3 linked regions of the Homo sapiens genome follow. The protein of the gene in region 1 purifies or fractionates together with the protein of each later gene. This does not show direct contact. Each region holds a gene or a part of one and is shown in the gene's direction. Other genes may lie near its edges.

Region 1 (7,749 bases):
AGCATTCATTGAACAATTATTTGCTTTTAGGTAATTTATTTTAAGTGGTATGTAGTCATTGTGGAAACTTTGAAAAATATTAAAGAATATAAAGGATGTGATAAAATTTGCTCATAATCCCACCACTCAAAAAAAAAAAGCTTTATTAACACGTTTTCTGTGGGGAAAAAAATGCATGTTTATATAATTTGTTTTATAATTCTTTATTTCTCTTGAAGATTTGCTTTGCATTTGAACAGATTTTGTTTGCTAAATCACAGCAAGACTGGCCAACTGCAGTTGTCATAAATAATTTATCAGTCATTGTGCAATGGGAGTATAGTGGAGTTATCTGCCATCAGATGGGCATGGGGAGGGTTTAGAGAAAATTTCACAGAGGAGGAAACATATATTATGAAAATATGCATGAGGTTCTGATACCTGTCAGTAAATAAAACATTGGGTCTTCTAATAAGGTCGTATTTGTTCTGTTGTAGGAGGCTGGCAGGATGTACAGTTTTTATCACAGGTGCAAGCCGTGGCATTGGCAAAGCTATTGCATTGAAAGCAGCAAAGGATGGAGCAAATATTGTTATTGCTGCAAAGACCGCCCAGCCACATCCAAAACTTCTAGGCACAATCTATACTGCTGCTGAAGAAAGTGAGTGTGACAGTGCCATTTGATAAAATGTCTTTCTAGTGGTTTCAATACATAGAGAATTTGCTGGAGAGTTTAGTTAAAGCTATTTGAAAGCTACCCTGAACATAATTTTATCTAGTGAAAGAAGTATTTATGTTGTCACCTTGGGGCAGTGCTTCTGACCGTTTTTCTCCACCAGCACTTTTAAGCAATGTGAGAAACTCCAGTTAAAAATCTTATTTCATGGCGGGGCGTGGTGACTCACACCTGTAATTTCACCCAGCTACTCGGGAGGCTGAGGCAGGAGAATCACTTGAACCTGGGAGGTGGAGGTTGCAGTGAGCCAAGATCATGCCACAGCACTCCAGCTTGGGTGACAGAGCGAGACTCCATCTCTTAAAAAAAAAAAAATCTTGGTTCTTGAGGGCAGTGGTTCTTGGATGGGAGGGGGAGTAGGGAAGTGGAGTAGAGAGGAGAGAATTTGATTGGTGAGTGGCATGAACTCTTTGAGAAAGCGTTCTGTGTTATTTATTCTCTGTACAATTTGCAAGTCATCATTTTAATACTTTTAGTTGACAAATAATTATCACATACTTCTATTTAAGGCATAGCGCTAGGCACAGAGCCAGGAGAGAGGGCTTAAAAATTCAAGTTCAGTTGACATTGCTAGTTTTGTTAATCATGTTCAGAGCACTGTGGTTATGTTAGAGGAATGCATGTGAAGTGTTTATGAGTGAAATGATGTCAGGGATTTGCTTTAAAACACACCAGCAAAAAATAAAACAGGGGACAGGAAAGATAAACATATTAACTGACAAAACTAACAATCGTTGAAGATAGGTGATGGATTCCTGTTAGTTTATTACAGCATCTTTACATTTTTATATAGTTTAGAATATTTCCACAATAAAAAGTTTTTAAAAATTACTTTCAACTGGGTGAGGTGGCTCAAGCCTGTAATCCCAGCACTTTGGGAGGCCAAGGCGGGTGGATCACTTGAGGTCAGGAGTGCGAGACCAGCCTGACCAACATGGCAAAACCGTGTCTCTACAAAAAATAGAAAAATTAGCCTGGCGTGGTGGTGCATGCCTATAGTCCCAGCTACTTGGGAAGCTGAGGTGGGAGGATCCTTTGAGCCTGGGAGATTGAGGCTGCAGTGAGCTGTGTTTGTGCCACTTCACCCAAGCCTGGGCAAGAGAGTGAGACCCTGTCTGAAAAACAAAAACAAACAAACAAAAAACTTCCTTTTTTTAGCTTTTTAAAAAAATTACAAAGAAACCCCCACCAAACCTTCGTTTTTGTTTTTTAATAGTGTTAGCCTAGCTAGTCTGTCCTGCTATATGGTAGAGTCACTGGTGGTAAGATAGAGTTATTTATATTGATTTTCTGAAAACAGGGTACTTTTTTCTTTTGACTGTGATATTGGAATTAAAGGTATAATATTTAAATGCTTTAACGCTTTTTCATTTTGTATCCTTTATATAAGTTGAAGCAGTTGGAGGAAAGGCCTTGCCATGTATTGTTGATGTGAGAGATGAACAGCAGATCAGTGCTGCAGTGGAGAAAGCCATCAAGAAATTTGGAGGTAATACCTTCATTCTGAAAAAATTATTGGATATTGGTAAAATAAAGGTATAACTATAATGTTAATTTAAAAATTTGTTTTGAGTTTTGAATTTTCTGAGTCTTTGGAGAAATACGTATTTGCTCACACAGAACATGATTTAAAACCATCTGATAAGGCTGGGCGTGGTGGCTCACACCTGTAATCCCAGCACTTTGGGAGGCCGAGGCAGGCAGATCACTTGAGGTCAGGAGTTTAAGACCAGCCTGGCCAACATGGTGAAACCCCGTCTCTACTAAAAATACAAAAATTAGCTGAACATGGTGGTGGATGCCTGTAATCCCAGCTACTCAGGAGGCTGAGGTGGAAGAATTGCTTGAACCTGGGAGGTGGAGGTTGCAGTGAGCTGAGATTGCACCACTGCATTCCAGCCTGGGTGACAGAGCAAGACTCTGTCTCAAAAAGAAAAAAAAAAAAAAGAAAAAGAGTGTGGAATGATAGACTGTGGAGACTGGGAAGAAAGAAGGGATGCAAGGGGGGTAGATGAAGAGAAATTACTTAATCGGTACAATGTTTGCTGTTTGGGTGATGGATACCCTAAAAGTCCTGGACACTGCACAATCTATGTATGTGAGAAAATTGCACTTGTGCCTTATATATTTGTTTTTGAAAAAATTCTTCCTTTATGTGGTTAAATTTCATCTTCTTCACAAAGTCAGTTCCCTCACCATGCCAACTAATCAGAATTATATTTTTCTTTCTCTGATTTCTTTTTTCTTTTTTTTTGAGACTGAGTCTTGCTCTTGTCACCCAGGCTGGAGTGCAGTGGCGCAATCTCGGCTCACTGCAACCTCTGCCTCCTGGGTTCAAGCGATTCTCCTGCCTCAGCCTCCCGAGTAGCTGGGATTACAGGCGCCTGCCACCATGCCCAGCTAATTTTTGTATATTTAGTAGAGACAGGTTTCGCCACATTGGCCAGGCTGGTCTCGAACTCCTGACTTCATGATCCACCCAACTCAGCCTCCCAAAGTGCTGGGATTACAGGCGTGAGCCACCGTGCCCGGCCTCTCTGATTTCTTAAAACATTCATTTGATCCTTATCTTGTACTATTTTAGATCTTAGTATTTCTTTTCTCCCCAATTAGTTCAAAAGTTCCTAGAAAAAAGGTGTTGGGGATTGAGCTAAGGCTTTCATGGTATTATAGTAGGGCACCTAGGCATGTCCAAATCCTGCCTAAACCATTACCACTCTCCCCGCTAATGTTCTGGAGGACCATATGTACATGTGAGGGACAATGGCCAGTGGAAAATGAGGGAATGCTTCAGTGTTAGCAAGGCTGTACTTATAATCCCAATGCAGAGTGCTGTGGGGTGCTGGACTGAAGCACGGAGCTTTGGCTCAAGTGGAGCCTCTTCCCTTAAATCCAAAATCTTACCCCTAGCCGGCAGCCTTTCCCAAAGAAATGTGAATGCCTGTGTCAGAAGAGGAGAGAAAATGCAAAATGATGTTTGTCCAACTGATAGGGCGCTAAATGTGAAATGTGCCACGCTCAAATGCAGGATATTTTATCTAAAATGACTTCACCTAGTAGTAAAAGTGGTTAACTAGTGCCACTTAGGATTTGATGTAATTAGTTTATCCACTAATTTTTGGAGAGGACGTAAGGGGAGAAAGCTGAAGCTTTTCATTCTCCCATATTCATTCAGTTTTAGTTCTTTTTTTTTTCTTCTTTGAAACAGGGTCTCACTCTGTCACCCAGACTGGTATGTAGTGGCATGATCGTGGCTCACCACAGCTTTGGCCTCCTGGGCTCAGGTGATCCTCCAACCCCAGCCTCCCAAGAAGCTGGGACTATAGGTGCCCACCACCAGGCCTAGCTAATTTTTGTGTTTTTAGTAGAGATGGGGTTTCACCATGTTGGCCAGGCTGGTCTCAAACTCCTGACCTCAAGGGATCCACCCACCTCAACTTCTCAAAGTGCTGGGGTTACAAGCATGAGCCACTGTCCCCAGCCTTGAATTTATTATTTAATTTTTTAAAATTGTGGTAAAATACACATAACATAAAATTTACCATCCTATTTTTAAGTGTACAGTTCAGTGACATTGAAGTTTATTATATTGTTACACAACCATCATTAAGTACACTTCACAAAGAATAATGAAGACCAGGTAGAAACAAAGAAAAAATGTTTGACATAGTTTTTGTATTTTTACCATTTTCCTTTAATGTTATTTCACTAAGCATATAACTATAAGCAAAACTTGTTGGTTATAGGTAGAAACTAGATAGAATTTGCAGAAATAGTAGTTACTCTAGGTTTATTTTTTGTGTGTGTGTATGAGTCACTAAAACAAAATTGATCCACTTTGATGATCTGCCTGGGATTGAAACAGTAGGTCTTTCTCTTTTCCCAGTTCTCAAGACCAGAAAGGAGCCTTTCCCTTTAAGTGAGGGGCCTTGGGGGAAGGGAGACTACTATGCTTGGAGGGAGGACAGGCCTTTGAAACTTCATGCTAGAGAGGAAGAAAGACTTTAAGGAATTTGATCCAAGGTTTATGGAGACAGGGAGGGACAACCAGGAGGTAAGAGAACAGTTAAGAGTGGAAGCTACAAACCACCGAAGACTAAGCCTCCTTGTAGTTTCACATGGAGCTCTGGCAATTGGCTATATCTCCACTGTGCTAGTGACAATCATGCAGGTGCTATTTTGAAATAGCTACCAGTCTTGCATTGGTAGTGGTTAGTCATATTATCTAAAGGAAGTATAGCCATGCATTGCTTAATGATGGGGATATGTTCTGAGAAAGGCATTATTAGGTGATTTTATGATCGTATGAACATAGAGTATACTTACACAAACATAGATAGTCTAGCTGACCACATACCTAGGCTGTATGGCATAGCCTATTGCTTCCAGGCTGTAAAGCTGTATAACATGTTACTGTACTGACTACTGTAGGCGTTTGTAACACAACAGTAAGTATGTATCTGAACAAACTTAGACAGAAAAGAGATAAAATAAAAAAACAGTATTGTAATCTTAAGGGACCATGTTGCGTATATGGGCCATTGTTGATTGAAATGTTAGGTGTGGTACATGACTGTATTTGTGAATCAACTGAGGGTTCAAGAGAGTAAACGCTTTTTTTGTGTGTGATAAAAAGTCTTTCATTAAAATGAAATTGATTATTTTGAAAACAGGAATTGATATTCTGGTAAATAATGCCAGTGCCATTAGTTTGACCAATACATTGGACACACCTACCAAGAGATTGGATCTGATGATGAACGTGAACACCAGAGGCACCTACCTTGCGTAAGTTTGCAAGAAGAGTTGTTGGGGAGGAAGTTGCGGTGTTTCTCAGGGAACTTACATAGTTGTAAACAGATTTGAGCCAAATTAACAGTGTAGTTCAAAATCTAGTCAATCCTTATAAGGGTCTAAAAGTCCTTCATTCAGTCAATAGTATTTTATTTTATTTTTTATTTATTTATTTTTTTGAGATGGAGTTTCATTCTTGTTGCCCAGGCTGGAGTGCAGTGGCACGATCTCAGCTCACTGCAACCTTTGCCTCCTAGGTTCAAGCGATTCTCCTGCCTCAGCCTCCTGAGTAGCTGGGATTACAGGCGCCCACCACCATGCCCAGTTGATTTTTTGTATTTTTAGTAGAGACAGGGTTTTACCATGTTGGCCAGGCTGGTCTCAAACTCCTTACCTCAGGTGATCCACCCACCTTGGCCTCCCAAAGTGCTGGGATTACAGGCATGAGCCACCATGCCCAGCCCGATAGTATTTTAAATAGCTTTATTTGGAGCTCCTTTTCTCTATGAATTTAGGAAAGACTAAAGTAGGCTGAGTGCAGTGGCTCACACCTGTAATTTCAGCACTTTGGGTGAGGGGAGTATTATTGGAGGCCAGGAGATTGAGACTGAGATGCACAAGATGGCAAGACGCTGTCTCTACAAAAAAAAGTTTTTAAAATCAGGCAGGCATAGTGGTTTGTGTGCTACTGAGACTGTGGTGGTGGTCTCATCTACTCAGGAGACTGAGGCAAGAGGATCCCTTGAGCCCAGGAGTTTGAGGCTACAATGAGCTGTGATCATGCCACTGCACTCCAGCCTGGGTAACAGAGAAAGACTGTCTCCAAAGAAAAAAAAAAAAGACTAAAGTGTAGCTCAAGCATTTTCTCAAATATTTGCATGTGTAAATACTTACATGTATACTCTGTCTTTCATAGGACACAGTCCTTTCATAGGACTATTTAGGATTACTGAAGCCAGCAATAGTCTCCTTCCTCTGAAAAAGACCTGGCGTTAAAAAAAAAAAAAGACGTAGGTTTTAGTTATTTAAATAACAGTAAGGTCATTCTCATTATGAATCACACTTTATTGTAACCAATAAAAACACTAATACTTTCTTGGGCTTTGCCGGGGAAATGTAGACTATCGAATGAAAGAACATAGTCTTGATCTGTTCTGGATTCATCAGACAACCTGTCTTATTGTCCATTTATTTATCTGTTTATTTACCCTCTGGTTCTATATTTTCCATGTGGATATCAGGATACATCAGGTTAGAACTTGCTTCTGTACCTTACATGTATCTTGTTAACACACAGAATAGGTGGTTAGGAGCTTAGGCTCTGGAGTAAGACTGCTTGGATTCAAATCTTAACACTCACCCCTCATGACTTTCTATTTTGTGACCTTGGACAAGTAACTTAACTTCTTGCAGATTCAGTTTCTTTACTTTTAAAATGGCAATAATACAGTAATATGTTATAGGGTTGGTCACGAGGGTTAAATGTCTAAGTTATTAAGTTAGAGTCCTGAATTTTTCCCTCAGGTATGTTTTGTTGGGTCTGCAAAACTTGGCCCAGACAGTGTTAAAACAAAATTGTTTTCATTAGTTACCTACATTCAAAGTTTTATTAGTTAGGGCCAGGCATGGCGGCTCATGCTTGTAATCCCAGCACTTTGGGAGGCTGAGCCAGGCGGGTCACTTGAGCCCAGGAGTTCGAAACCAGCCTAGACAACATGGCAAAACCCTGTCTCTACAAAAAATAGAAAAATTAGCTGGGGATGGTGGCACACGTGCCTGTAGTCCCAGCTACTTAGGAAGCTGAAGTGGGGGGATTGTCTGAATCTGGGAGGTGGACGTTGCTGTGAGCTGAGATCACCCTACTGCACTCCAGCCTGGGTGACAGAGCGAGACCCTGTCTCAAAAACTTTATTGGTTGCTTATGTTGAAAAAATTAGAAGATTTATACAAAAGTCCAGATTTCTAGCTTTTCTTGAAATCTTAGAAGATCTGGCCAAATAGAGAAGCATTACCACATGGCAATAGTTGCTGTAGCTGAGTGGCAGGGTTATCAACTGCCTCATCAGATGGGGCCAGAGCTCTGTTGTCTTCTGGATGCTGAGGACAGACTAACAAGTTATATCATTGCATTTACACTGTTGTTTTTCTTATATGAAAGAGGAAAGTGAAATATTTCTCATAACCACATCTCTCTCTGAATTGGGAAAATGAGACTTATGCCAAGAGGGCCGTATGTTCAA
Region 2 (7,749 bases), on another chromosome or scaffold:
ACCCACCAACAAAATCTATAAATCATCAAAGCCTATGTTCTTTCCAGTTGGTTTCTTATTTATTTATTATTATTATTATTTTTTGAGACAGAGTTTCACTCTTGTTTCCCAGGCTGGAGTGCAATTGGGCAATCTTGGCTCACCGCAACCTCCGCCTCCCGGGTTCAAGCGATTCTTCTGCCTCAGCCTCCTGAGTAGCTGGGATTACAGGCATGTGCCACCACGCCCAGCTAATTTTGTATTTTTGGTAGAGACGGGGTTTCTCCATGTTGGTCAGGCTGGTCTCGAACTCCCGACCTCAGGTGATCCACCTGCCTCAGCCTCCCAAAGTTCTGGGATTATAGGCGTGAGCCACTGCACCCGGCCTTAATTTTTAAGGTCTCATACAAATATAACTTATAAGTTTAAATGTAATAGAAATGTTTATTTTTAACATTATTTAATAACACAGAAATTTCATAGAATTTTTCAAGAGTTCAGATTATTGTACATTTCATTGTTACCACAGAATGATGAAGTGATATGCCTGGCAGATCATTGAAGTTGGCATGAACTCAGTTTTGATTTTTCCAGAGGTTTTATCAGTAGATAAAATCTTCAAAGTAGTTAATTTTATCACATTTTTTTTTTCAAAGTAAAAGTTTTGAAGACAATTTTGGAACTGTAATGTGATTTCAAAATCTTGTTCATCTTTTTTGTTATTCCACTTGTTACCATTAGGTGGTGATAAATGGCCATATCAAACAAAATAAGCAAAGAGAAATCTGGACTGTAAGGAAATGGGAGTCTCCTAAAACTTTTTTCCATGAAATTTGAATTTTCTATATTGAAATTCTGGGGATATTGATATATACTCAATTTTTTCAGCATCTTATCAAGCATGCCTCTACATCATCTATGTTTATCTTTAAAAAGTATATTAGTATTGTGGCTTAATCATTTTTTAGGAGCATAGAACAGTTTAGAACTTGTTAATTGCTATCTCCTCTCCCAGAAAGATTTGTGTACACTTTCACCTGAAGCCCAACATGAGCCCAGTGCGGAGCCTGTCTAGTTTTTTGGTAACCAGTAACTGAAAATTCATATGCAGAGCCTGTCTAGTTTTTGAGTAACCAATAACTGAAAATTCATCTGCAGAGCCTGTCTAGTTTTTGAGTAGCCAATAACTGAAAATTCAGCCCTTCTCCTCCAGTCAGCCTAATTATGTGGTTTCTAGTTTATATTTAATCTTAGAGCATTTATGGCAACCCCTTTGCTAATACACGTTTTCTCAGGTTATTGTGTATTACAAAGATATGACTGCAAGATTAAACCTAAGCAGATGTGTCCGCACCATCCACGTCCTCATCACTGACCATTTGAAGGCCTGGCAGGAGCAAGGACCATGTGCCACATGGCAGGGACACAGAGTAGAAGAAAGGACCATGCCCTGGGGTTCCAGTCTGCTTCTTAGACTTCACTGTATCATTCTGTAGCAGCTCAAGCACATGCAAAATCAGAACTTTATTCCCCCCTGAGACAGGGTCTCGCTTTGTTGCCCAGGTTGCAGTGGTGTGATCGTAGCTCACTGAAGCCTTACCTCCTGGGCTCAAGTGATCCTGCTGCCTCAGCCCCACATAGGGCTGGGACTGCAGGCGTGTGCTACCACACCCAAAATCAGAACTTTTAAAATGTGCTTCCCCCTTCTGGAGGCTCACTACACTTTTGCAAATAACTGTTTTTTTGTTTTTTGTTTTTTTTTGAGACAGAGTCTCCCTCTGTCTCACAGGCTGGAGTACAGTGGTGCGATCTCGGCTCATTGCAACCTCCGCCTCCTGGGTTCGAGCGATTCTCGTGCCTCAGCCTCTTGAGTAGCTGAGATTATAGGCACGTGCCACCACGCCCAGCTAATTTTTGTATTTTTAGTAGAGATGGGATTTCACCATGTTGGCCAGACTGGTCTCCAACCCCTGACCTCAAGTGATCTGCCCTCCTTGGCCTCCCAAAGTGCTGGGATTACAGGCGTGAGTCACTGCACCTGGCATGTGTTTTTCAATGTTGTTAATTTCAACAATTAGTTATATAACCTAGACATAAAATAGAACTAGAAGTTATGTAAATCTTAAAACATAGAAACATCAGAAAACCATAAGTATGATCTTTTTGTTAGAATATTAAATATCTGTTAAAAGTAAAATTAATATATTATTTATAATATAGTAACAATATATTCATTTTACTAAACTAATATTTTATTAAGTGATAATTCAACAATATATATGTTGATTTGACATATTTATATTTTGTTTATTAAATTGTGAAATATTAATTCAAAACGCCTTTAAATAACTTTTACTCCTCCTGCATACAGCGTAAAAGAGCAGTGGACCTCAATGTTAAAATCTTGGATTTGAGTAGTACATTTCTTATGGGAACCAATTTTCCCAACAAGATTGAGAAGCATCTCTTACCAGAACACATTCGTCGTAACTTTACATCTGCTGGGGATCATATCATAATTGATGGTCTCCACGCAGAATCACCAGATGACTTGGTATGTATGTTTCATTCTCTTTGTTGTTTAGGTCCCATTTGTGTGTTGCTACTGTTTTAACCCAAAATTCAGTGATAATATAATAGTATCCTTAAAAACTTTTTAGCATTACTAAGCCCTAAAAATTTAACTTGTGGAATTATTAATGCCATAAACACTTTAAAGAATGAAAATGATTTAATTACTTATATTTCATACAAGACTCCTTATTTTTAAAGTATGATTAATAACACCATTAACTGACATTCTAGACTACAGAGACTTTTAAATTCATGCAGCCTTACTTCTCCTGGTTAAGACGCTTTATAGCATAGAGATCCACGCACTGGGTAGAGGTTTGCCCCACCGTACCTCAGAACAGTACCCTAGAGCTGCAGTCAAGTATGCTATTGCATCCCATGCTATTTTATGACTCTGGAAGCTTTATGGCCTCGTGTAGACCATTGCTTTATTTTGAAAGCAGTGATCATCTGCAGATCAAGTGGTGAGCATGAGCCTGTGTTATTGTTGCATAGGACTGTGTGATGATATTTATAGCCTTCACCATTTACTTTTTAAACGTAGGTGCGAGAAGCTGCTTATAAAATTTTTCTTTATCCCAATGCTGGTCAATTGAAATGTTTAGAAGAATTGCTCAGCAGCAGAGATCTTCTGGCAAAGTTGGTGGGGTATTCCACGTTTTCTCACAGGGCTCTCCAAGGAACGATAGCTAAAAATCCAGGTAAGCCTGTTTATCCAACATTTAAGGGCAAAATAGGATTTTTATGAAACTGAGCTTTTGATTTTAAATAGCTGTAAATTAGTGTTCTATTTTTAATACATGTAGAGAACCATTTATTGAGATTTTCTATGTATTTTTATAGGAACCATTTTTAAATAGAGCTAATAATTTGGCATAATTCTGTCCAACCAAAGAATTTTATTTTATGTGAATGTTGAGAGTAAAATCATAACCTAAATTTTCATTTTGATGTTAGTCTAAATTGTTTTCATTTTAACACAGTTTCTGTGCTGAATTTGACAAATTGGTTAGAATTAGTGTAAGAGAATGAAAGATCAGTATGTTTACTGAGGTCAAGGTTAAATGTAGGTTAGGTCATATAAAAAACACACAGTCAGATAAGCCTCCTTTTCAGAGAGAAGAGTACTGCTTAGGAAGGTTTGTGCTAGGTGAGGTGTTACGGAAGTGTGTCGTTGGGTTTGTCATAAACTTGCCTTGTGCTATGTTGAGTTCCTTATGATTCATAATGTCTAAGAGAAAATGTTACACAATAATAATATAAATGTACATAATACGTTTTTTCAGAAGCATTTATTAACTTACAGTTGTAATTTAGGTGGTGAGTCAGGAGTAGGGTGGCCGTGATGATGGAGCTGCGTGAGACTCAAGGTCTTGGCAGTGAAGTTGCAAGACTTAGTGAGGGTGAGAGGGAGGAGGAGGCATTGTGGTGGGCCCCCTGGGTTTCTGGTTGTACATCTGGTTAGACATTCCACTCACCGACAGAGGGGACACTGGGGGCAGATCACAACCTGAATCCTCGCTTGTCTTTATTCCTTCTGTGCTTATCCCTTCTCACCCTAGCATGTTCCTCTCTTCTCCAAAGTTCTCTAAATGCACTCAATCTTACTTCTTACTCTTTCGTAAACAACTGTTTCCCTTGACCTGTCAGGGCTCTCGGTTAAGCTACAGGCGTGTCACGCTCATTGCGGCCTGGGTTCCCTTGCTCGTGTCACTCTCCTATGGAGAGCAGCTTTTCTTCCTGGTCTGCCTGTTAAAATCTTACCCCGTTTTTTTAGTGCTCAGCTCAAAACCCACCTCTTTCATGAAGCTGGTTAAACTTTTTCACTTTCCTTGGACTCCTTTGTCCCCGAACCCTTAAAACACTTACATTTTTTTTCATATAATCGAAGCTCCTAAACAGATATAATATGTATGTTATGTATTAAATGTGTGTTTTTAGTGTATGTTTTTTCTTTTTTTGTAAGTATCAGTTTGGTGAAAAGTATGTTTTTCTGTAGTCGCTGTTGTCAACAGTTTGATTATAATAGTACCATATTTTTATTTTATATTTATATAAAATAATAATATTAGAATATCATTCAGTGCTTATCCTGTTGTTATCTCATTTCCTTCCTCTGCAGCTTTGTGAGGTAGGTATTTGTATTCGTGTCACAGATAAGGAATCTAAGGTTAGGTTATATTGCTAAAATGTGGCAGAACTGAAGCCTAAACACATATGCTACATTTATGGTTTTCCACAGGCTGCTTGAGACCTAATGCCCTATGTTTTATATCATCTACATCCCCCTTTTGTTTATTAATTCAGCAAATATTTACTGATTGCCCACTGTATGTCAGATATTATTCTCGGTCAGGGAAATAAGTCAGTGTACAAAGCAGAAGAAAATTCCTATCCTTATGCAGTTTACATTCTTGGGAGCAAGGGAAGAACAGTAAAGAACGAAATAAGTAGATAAAGTATGTGGTATGTTATTAGTTAATACAAGCCATGGAGAAAACTGAACAGGGAAGGGGATAAGGTATGTGGGCATGTAGGCTGGTGTTGGAGTTTTAGAGAGCATTGTCGGAAGGCTCACTTAGAATGTGGAATGTGAGCGTGCTCTTGACAGACACAAGCATGAGGCTGTGGCTCTTGAGGGGAGAAAGGTTTCACGCAGAGTCACTATCAAGTGCTAAGGTCTTGAGGCAGAAAAATGCCTGCCACGTTTGAGGAGGGCAGAGTGGCTGAAGCGCAGCGTGTGCAAGGAGAGTGGCGAGAGGTGGGAACAGACTGACAAGGGGCGGCATTAAGTAGAGACTTGATGCAAGTGCAGCAGGTCACTGTGGGGGTTGGGGCAGAGGAGTGAGATGATCTGACTCCAGTGCTAATGGTGAGTCAGTGCTGCTGTTCCTGAGAGAAGACTGCAGCAGGGCCAGGGTAGAAGAGGGCCTGTTTAGATGCTGTTTTGCAGTAACCATGATGAGAAGTGTTGGCATCTTGACCAGGTGGTAGCAGGGAAGGTGGTAAGATGTGATCAGATTCTGGGTACAGAGTATTTGGAAGAGGGAGCCAACATTTTCGACCTAAGCAACTAGAAAGAGAGTGAGTTACTACTGTTAACTAAGATTGGGAGGACCGGAAACTTGGTTTGTTTCAAGTTAAGTTTGAGATACCAAATGAGGTTCAAGTGGTGAAGTTGGGTAGGCAGTTAGATGGAGTGTGGAGTTCTGAGCTTCATATGTAAGTCTGAACCTCTAAAATGAGATTCTGATACCACTAAGAGAGTGAACTTAAAGAACAAGTCCAAGGACTGCGCTCTGGGGCCTTCAAGTTTAAGAGGCCAGGCATGTGAGGAACTGCTAGTTAACGCTGCCAGATGTAACGGCCACTAAGGGAGGTGGAAAGTGATTACAGGGTGTGGTCCTGGAGGCCGCGCAGAAGGTCTGTCTACAGGAGAGGGGAGAGATCAGCTGACTCATGCTGTGGCCAGGTCAGATGTGAGGAGGGCTGGGCATGACCACTGGCTGTAGCAGCGTGGAGCTCACTGGACCTGCAGCACCCAGCTCCAGATTCCGTGACTGGCAGGTCACCCTTGTGCACTAAGTGCTTGGTGTGCTGATGTATTGGCAGGGGGCTGTTGTGCACATCATCACGTAAGATGTGCTCTGGGTCCTTGAGGATTTAAAGCTTAGTTGAGGAGCTGGATATATGCATATAAAAAGATAAATAATAATAGAGGTTGGCACGTTTTCGGTGTCGATGGAGTAGTACAGACAAAACAATGCCATGGGATTTAGGAGCTCGGGGCATTTGTCAGATGCATCTGTGGCTGTGGAAGGCGCCCTGAGGGAAATGAAACTGTCATGCACAGTGATGGAGTGAGTCCTCAGCAGAGCAGAAGGAAGACAGAGAGGCTGACTGAGGCTAAGGCGGGCATTCATGTGGCTAGTGAATGAGGAGGTAACTGCGGTGAGGCACTTAGTGGGGGGTTTCAAACTGAATCTTAATATGACAATTCTCTGGGGACACTAATTGAGGCAGGCCAGATGTGGTGTCTCATGCCTGTAATCTCAGCACTTTGGGAGGCTGAGGCAGGCAGATCACTTGAGGTCAGGAGTTCAAGAACAGCCTGGCCAACATGGTGAAACCCCATCTCTACTAAAAATACAAAAATTAATTGGGCGCGGTGGCGGGTGCCTGTAATCCCAGCTACTCAGGAAGCTGAGACAGGAGAATCGATTGAACCCTGGGAGGCAGAGGTTGCAGTGAGCCGAGATGGGACTTCTGCACTCCAGCCTGGGCAACAGAGCAAGACTCCATCTCAAAAAAAAAAAAAAATTAATTGAGGCAGATTCTTCACATGTAAAATGACTGGAAGAATAAGATGGGTGAATGTTAAAACACGGTTATTAAGAAATAAAACGTATACAAGCATACATAGGGATTCATTTGAAAACAGTTTGGTATGGTACCTGGAATATAATCCTAAAATGAGATTTCATTGTTGACTAAATAATGTCTTTGTTCCCCAAAAATTCCTATTGTTGTTTCATATGGCACATGAGCCAGTGTTTTCAGAATTCGTATACACAGGACTTGTTAAGTATTGACAGTGGCAAGAAACCTCATGGTTTGGGTTTAGGTTAACCACCATTATTTATTTCCTTAGTCTTTTATTTCACTCAAAAGGAGATAACTTAAATTGAAGAGAGGGCAGGAAACTTAAAACTGTATAAAAGATTATCTGGAAAATACAAACATAGTGTTTGTGGTGAACTAAAATACATATGAAAGCTCTGTACACATAAGTCAGTGATAAAAAGTGCTACATTCAGAAATACTTGCAAAACATTTCCTCTTGTGGGAAACGGTGATAATTCTACTGCACTGCCTTTATGGGTTTGTAAATTATGACAACTATGGCAGAAGTATTTTAATAAAAATACTTTAAAAATTCTATCAGAAGTTAATATTTATTTTTCTTATTTTGCTATTTTTTTCATATTTATCCTGAATAGATTATTCTACAGTTGTATATAACAATAAAATTGTTATCAAGAAAAACATTGATCTTAAAAAATTTATTTCAGGGAATTATACTTCTACACTGCACCTATTTTTATGAACAAAGCAGTCTAGATATCTCTTTAAAACTCTGAAAACGTCAGACATGTCTCAGAACTTTTTTTTCTTACACATATGAATAGATAGAAA
Region 3 (7,749 bases), 7.7 Mb from region 1:
ACACAGAGTAAATGACTTTGCAACTTTACTTCATCCTCTTCATTTATATACGGCTTACACCACATAGCCAATGGGACACCTCTAGAGGGTACTGAAACCCTAGAAAATTCTGTAACCAGGGCCCTTGAGCCACTTGCTCAGGCCCACTCCTACCCTGTGGAGTGTGCTTTCATTTTCAATAGATCTCTGCTTTTGTTACTTCATTCTTTCCTTGCTTTGTGCATTTTGTCCAGTTCTTTGTTCAAACACCAAGAACCTGGACACCCTCCATCAGTAACATATTGAGAATTGACAACAGAAGTACAAACATGAGTAATGAGTCTATGAGTGTCCCTTGTACCAGATTCAGATTAGGTTTTAACACAATATAATGAATCCTGTCTTCTCAAGATATTTACATTTGTCTTATCTTCTTCAGATGTGCTCATCTTTTGCTACGGGACCCAGACAATACGATGGAATATTCTATGAATTTCGTTCTTATTACCTTAAGCCCTCAAAGATGAATGAGTTCCTGGAAAATTTTGAGAAAAACGCTCATCTTCGGACAGCTCACTCTGAATTGGTTGGATACTGGAGTGTAGAATTTGGAGGCAGAATGAATACAGTGTTTCATATTTGGAAGTATGGTAAAGAGTCATCCAATTTTGGCTTTCAGTATAGATTTTCATTTTTCAGTATAGATTTTCATTCTGTTAAATGTAACATAAAACTTAGTTCTTGGATGTATATTATTTTAGATACATACAGGTTAACTAAGACTTTTGAAAAGCAATACCAAAAAAATAAATTCAGTTCTTATTCTTCCCAGTGGTACACCTCTAACCCCTTGCTTAAACATTACATTATATTACATTATAAATTGGAAGACATGGCATCTCATATATCAAGCGATAAAATTGTGAACTAGACTTTAAACCTCAGAAAAATATTAAAATGGTTTGCTGTAAAGATAGTTCATGAAAAATTTAAAGCAGCAATTGTAAAAGTCCAAGTGGATTAAGATCACAAAAGGAAAGGAGAAGTATCTTTTCTCTTTTTGAAGCTAGGGGGCTGGATATCAGTATTTTAGCAGAAATAATTCAACCATTTAAGGGACTTCACAATATGGAGGTTTATAGGGGATGATGGTTAACTTTCAATCCTCACTGAACTCTGAGATTTAATAATTCTGTTATGTTTAGAGACCACATTTGTTTCATATCTGTACCCCCAGAGTTTTGAGGAATTCACTGTCATACTACTCTAGGGAGGTAAAAGAAAAGGAATGAAAGAGAGTTCTTCCCGTGTTGAAACTAACCTACGCCTGGTTTAGTAGAGGAAGGAGAATAAGTTACAAGAATGCCCAGAATGCTTGTTACTCCAGTGTCTACATCAGGACTTGATGATACCTAAAGAATTTTTAATAATTTCATTTAGTGTTTGGTTTAGGGTTTTTCCCTGTTAATAGAAAAAGCCCCATTAAAATACATTTTATGCTTTAGATGTGGTACAAGTTGTATCACAGCCCATTAAAAAAACTAAGTTCTGATATACCTCACTTAAGTTGTAAGATAGGTATTCTTCCTTATCCCAATGTAAACCATATGAACCTCTCTTGCCATTAGTCTTATGAGGTCCTAATGGTAATTATAGTACTAGGCCCATATGTTGGCAAATGTATATAACTGTTTGGGTAACTTAAATAGAAGAGAAATAAGTGCTGGGGAGAAAGAATGGATGACAATAAGAGAATCAGCATTATTTCTTTGAAATCTGTTTGTTCAAAGGAGAAGAGGCTTAAAAAGTACGGTTTAACTTCACTCATGTTAAATTTGATTCAAGATGTTTTAACTTCACTCATGTTAAATTTGATTCAGGGTGTATCTGAACTTGACTACCCACCACCACCAAAGAAAAACAGTCTTTCTCTAAACTAGCACTATAAGTTAAATGCCTCAATCAAGTAAGAATAGTTCACATATACTGAGTATTAACTAGTGCCAACCGCTATATTCTAAACTCTTTTCATGTGTTAATTTAATCCTCATACAACCCTGGAGGTAGATGTCTTATTATCTCAATTTCACAGAAAGTGAGGCACAGAAAGATTCAATAACTTACCTAATTCACAAAACTGCCTACTATATGGTTGAGCCTATAAAGCCTATTATGTGGCATTACAGTTAGTTTGCATTTCTACTGCCCTTTTTGTCCTTGAGCAACTTCAGGGCAGATGGTCACATCTGTTTACGTTGGTGTCTCCAAAGGCCTAACACAAGGTTCTTATATGGCATCAATGACCATTGCTGATGTGAATGAAACCCAGAAAAGTACAGGTGATTTAAAATTGAATTTTTTATTTTTCTTAATTCTTTTCTTCCCACAGATAATTTTGCTCATCGAACTGAAGTTCGGAAAGCCTTGGCCAAAGATAAGGAATGGCAAGAACAATTCCTCATTCCAAATTTGGCTCTCATTGATAAACAAGAGAGTGAGATTACTTATCTGGTACCATGGTGCAAATTAGAAAAACCTCCAAAAGAAGGTAAGTCCTTCCTTCTTAGTCACTGAGTTTTGATGAATAAAATACTAAAGAACTTAAGTGATCAAAACTGAAGTTCCTTTGGAAAAAAATAAAATTAATTCTTTGTTTTATATAGAAACATACAGTGATTGTTGTGGTAAAAATAAATGGGAGCTCTTACCCCATCCTTTAAAAAAATGAGCATAAAATAATGAGATATTTTTCAAATTGAGACCTTGCAGATTTGTAAAGCTTAACTGTGTTATAGAGAAAGCTGACATGGTCAGTAGAGGTTGAGAATTTGTGCATTGGGAGCAGAGAACGTGTTGATAGGTAAGGGATAGCATAAGAAGTTTTGCCATAATTTTAAAATAATATGATCTTTAAAATGTAAAAGTATTTCCATAAATTATAACTAATCTTAAATCATTAAATACAGCTTTGCTTATAAAACTGAGTATTTGGGGGAAACAGATTAAGTGAAACTGCCAAGCTATATTACTTTAATCTAACTTTTGTGTCTTCTTTCTTGTTTCTCAGTTTGAAAGTAATTGCTTAAGATTTGTCTTCTTGCTGATTTCACTTCTTGCTGACTTAAAGAAACTATTACCTCAATCCAGTTTTAAATAAAGGTCAGATTAGAAAAGCATAAACTTATTTAAATGTTATTTTACTTCCCCCATTATTCCCAACTTTGTAGTGTATTTAGGTTACAAAAAATTTACAAAGTCTTCCTTGGATCTTTACCTACTTAGGTGTCCCCTCAGCTCTCAGCACTATCTAAATAAAATAGTTCACTTCTCTGACAGTGTCAAATCTTGGTTCTCCTCCTCTGTGTACATCACTGCTTGGAAATTTTTACATGCTTTTCCTACTTGTCCCAGAGTTTCTTTCTCTCCACCAGCCCTATACTTCTGTCCAAAGTGTACAATACTTTTCAAGTATTTACCTGGATATTTAGGAAAAATAAAACCATCTCTTTAGGTTTGTCTTTTTTCCTCCAAAATTCAAAGATATCACTTCAGGTCCACTCTTTGCTTTGCTGTTCCTGTTAAAAATGGAAACTTATAGGGAGAAATTATATGAAGAAAAACATAGTGGAAATTGGAAAGAATGAAAATATAGATTGGAAAATTCTTCTTTTATTCTTTTATTTTCTAAAAGCATAGACTTTTGCAGCTCAAAATTCTATATCATTATACATTCTCAACAGTTTTTTAACAAATGTTATAGATTAAAAATATTTCAGATAATAGTTATAATAGCTTCCAGTTCTTTTTCTTTGTCATCTGTATGATTAAGCATAACAACTCACTCTTAAACATGGGCAAGGACTTTCTAAGCATAAAAGCAGAGAGTGCAAATATAATAAACATGTCTACATAATATGTATGCATGTCTGATCCTCCAAATCTGTGTGTGTAGATAGTGAAAGACTATTCACTGAGAAACGTGATTGGATATTGCTTGAATGTTTTCTGAAAAATTCTTTTTCTCCCTATTCCAGGAGTCTATGAACTGGCCACTTTTCAGATGAAACCTGGTGGGCCAGCTCTGTGGGGTGATGCATTTAAAAGGGCAGTTCATGCTCATGTCAATCTAGGCTACACAAAACTAGTTGGAGTGTTCCACACAGAGTACGGAGCACTCAACAGAGGTACAATTGTCCATTTCTTCTTATATGAAATTGTAATATATATTGTGACCTAAGTTCCTTGGGTCAGGTTCTTTCTCATTATAGAGTATGTTTTATTATTTATTGCCAAATGTTTAGTTTTTTGTAATTTTTAAAATTGAGAAAATCTGTTTTACATCTTATTTATTTAGAATGTTAACTTATGAAACCTTCAAATGCTGAATAGCTGTTTTCCCTGATACATCAAAATGATTAAATTTTTTAAACTGAAGGAACCTCGGCTGGGCACGGTAGCTCAGGCCTGTAATCCCAGCACTTTTGGAGGCTGAGGGGGTGGATCACCTGAGGTCAGGAGTTCGAGACCAGCCTGGCAAACATGGTGAAACCCCGTCTCTAGTAAAAATAGAACAAATTAGCCAGGCATGGTGGTGGGGGCCTGTAATCCCAGCTATTCTGGAGGCTGAGGCAGGAGAATCACTTGAATCCAGGAAGCGGAGGTTGCAATGAGCCAAAATCGTGCCATCGCACTCCAGCCTGGGTGACAAGAGCAAAACTCCATCTCAAAAAAAAAAAAATGAAGGAACCTCAAGAAATAGTCTGTTACTTTCATCATTTCTTTTTCCTCTGAATGTACTTTTATTGATTTTTTAAAAATAATATTATTTGGGGTAGGGAGATTATCTCTAAGCAAAAAAGTAATATATGTTTTGTATAAATATGAAAACCCCCCTCATAAAAATTTACCCATTTTCCACCAGTTTTATATATATCTATATAGGGAGATATAGTAAATATGTATATATATTGAGGTAAATTTATATATGGATATAAATTTATTTAATAAAACACATACTTGGGGTATTTAACTTGTAATGTTGAAAAACATTTCAATCAGAATTTCAAGATTTTTTGTGGCAAATTCAGAAAAACATTTGTAAAGTTTATCTGAAAGGATAAAAGAGCTGATGAGGTAGCTCATACCTGTAATTCCAGCGCTTTTGGGAGGCTGAGGCTGGTGGATTGCTTAAGCCCAGGAGTTCACGACTAGCCTGGGCAACACAGCTTGTCTCTACAAAAAAAATTTTAAGAATTAGTTGGGCATGGTGGCAAACACCTGTAGTCCTAGCTACTTGGGAGGCTGAGGTGGGAGGATTGCTTGAGCCAGGAGTTCAAGGCTACAGTAAGCTATGATTGCACCACTGCACTCCAACCCCTGAACGACATAGTGAGACCCTGTCTCTTAAAAAAAAAAAGTAACGAAGAAAGGATAAATGTCTAAGAATAGCTAACAAATATTTGAAAGACTCATCATAATATCCTGTTGCCTTTCTATTATCTCTTTATGTCCAATGGACATCTCAAACCTAATATACCCATCTTTATGCAGAAATTCAACTTCTTGTAATAATCTATCATAAGAAAATAGAATATATAAAAACAGATGTATATTCAGGTTGGAAAATACATGGAGGAGAAACTGTTATGAAAATTATTAGATGCCTATCTCACACCATATGCGAAAATAAAGTCAAGCTGGATTGTATATTTTAATGAAAAAAATTTAATTCATAAAATTGGTAAAACAAAATGTAGATGAATTTATTTAATAATGTGGATTGGGACTATATTTGTAAGCCAAAAGCAAATGAAGAAACTATGAAGAAAAAAAAATCAACTTATGATTTTATTATACAAAGGCTCAAACTATCTGGATGCCTGAAAATCACCATAAATGAAATTCAAAAGCAAAAATAAAAATAAAAATTTATGCAAAAGTAGACATGCACATGGCTACTAAATATATATTAAAGAAAATGCATATTAAAACAATAATGAGATGCCATTTCTTTACCTTATAAAAGGTATACTTACATGGATATAGTATTAGGTCAGGAAAAAATAAGTACTCAGATACTGTGTAGGGTTCATATTAGCTTAATCTTCCCCCAAAATTTGACAATAAAAATAAAAGCCTTATTTTTATTGTTTTTGCCAGTATTACTTCTAGAAAATATGCCTGGGTGTGTATGTGTATAGGTGTGCTAAATTATACAGAAAAGAAATTTGAAAGTATATAACATACATAGTAGTCATATTTCAGTGAGATAAATGGTTAAGTCTCTATGTTAATATTCTTTTTTTTTTTTTTTTTTTGAGATGGAGCCTCGCTCTGTGGAGTGCAGGTACGATCTCAGCTCCCTGCAACCTCCGCCTCCTTGGTTCAGGCGGTTCTCCTGCCTCAGCCTCCCAAGTAGCTGGGATTACAGCTGTGTGCCACCATGCCCAGCTAATTTTTGTATTTTTAGTAGAGACAGGATTTCACCAGGCTGGTCTCAAACTCCTGACCACAGGTGATCCGCCCGCCTCGGCCTCCCAAAGTGGTGGGATAAGAGGCCTGAGCCACTACACCTAGCCTCTACCTTAATTTTCTATACTGCACATATTAAGTTTTATTTTTTTAAAAACTACAGAAAATGTGTGTTCATACACTTTTTAATCTTAAATTCATTCTCAGTGTTAGGAGAATTGGTAATCAGTACATCATTTCTGGAGGACAGTGTATACTATATACACTATATGTAAGTACATATATATAAGACATGCTCTTTGGTTCTGTCAACTTAAATTCTACTTTATATTAAGGAAATAATCAGATTCAGACTGCCTGGGTTTGAATCCCAGGTACACTACTTACTTTTTGACTTTGGGTAAGTAAACCTCACCATACCTTAGTTTTTTCATCTATAAAATGATAGATTATTATGAGGACCTAGATTATTATGAGGATTAAATGAGTTAATACATTAAAATGCTTAAAACTAGGCCTGACACATAGTTATCATTCAATAAATGTCAGTAGTTGTCATCGAAAGTATTATTATAAACACATAGTTGTGCTCAAATGAAGTTTATGTTAATATTGTTTACATTAAAGAAACATTGGAAATGTAGTATGACCTTCTTTATGTAATACATACGTAATACAGAAATCGATATACATGTACGTCATATCGTGTATTTACATAAGCATAAGCAAATATGCTTATATATGTTTATTTGTATACATATACAACTATATATAAAAATACAGGCCAGGCGTGGTGGTTCATGCCTGTAATCCCAACACTTTGGGATGCCAAGGCAGTAGGATTGCTTGAGGCTAGGAGTTCGAGACCAGCCTGGGCAACAAAGTGGGAACCTGTCTCTACAAAAATAAAAATAAAATTAAAATTAAAAAATAAAAATACATATATACACAAATATAGAAAGAGATACACCAAATATAAAAGAGATACACCAAAAATAAAATGATTAGTTTGTTTTTAATCTGCATTTTCCTATACATCTAACATGTATATATTACAATTATAAAAACTTCATAAGCAATTTTGTACAAGAACAACATTTATTCCAGTATTTTATAGAATACTGAAATATTGGAAATAGTCTAAATAGTCAACAATAAGGGGTTGACATAATAAGTTGCTGTATCTGTAAGGAGGAATTTATATAACCATTAAAAATTAATATTGCCATAGAAAATACTGTTTTTAAAAACTTGTTACTAAGCTAAATCTGTTATTATAATATACAATAAGACCCTGAT

The links. Proteins that work in one complex are often made in the same cells at the same time.
Region 2: the proteins of HSDL2 (region 1) and MIPEP purify together in Homo sapiens (affinity purification with mass spectrometry; 2 studies listed by BioGRID and IntAct, with this or other methods). This does not show direct contact.
Region 3: the proteins of HSDL2 (region 1) and NIPSNAP3A purify together in Homo sapiens (affinity purification with mass spectrometry; 2 studies listed by BioGRID and IntAct, with this or other methods). This does not show direct contact.

The regions. Positions count from the first base shown.
Region 1 is NC_000009.12:112,403,519-112,411,267, forward strand, and holds part of HSDL2 (hydroxysteroid dehydrogenase-like protein 2), read left to right. Parts: intron 1-476; coding exon 477-640; intron 641-2,105; coding exon 2,106-2,204; intron 2,205-5,388; coding exon 5,389-5,503; intron 5,504-7,749. UniProt on the Homo sapiens protein: Has apparently no steroid dehydrogenase activity. Controls bile acid (BA) and lipid metabolism in response to nutritional cues.
Region 2 is NC_000013.11:23,864,797-23,872,545, reverse strand, and holds part of MIPEP (mitochondrial intermediate peptidase), read left to right. Parts: intron 1-2,350; coding exon 2,351-2,533; intron 2,534-3,097; coding exon 3,098-3,254; intron 3,255-7,749. UniProt on the Homo sapiens protein: Cleaves proteins, imported into the mitochondrion, to their mature size.
Region 3 is NC_000009.12:104,750,538-104,758,286, forward strand, and holds part of NIPSNAP3A (protein NipSnap homolog 3A), read left to right. Parts: intron 1-418; coding exon 419-629; intron 630-2,368; coding exon 2,369-2,527; intron 2,528-4,013; coding exon 4,014-4,163; intron 4,164-7,749.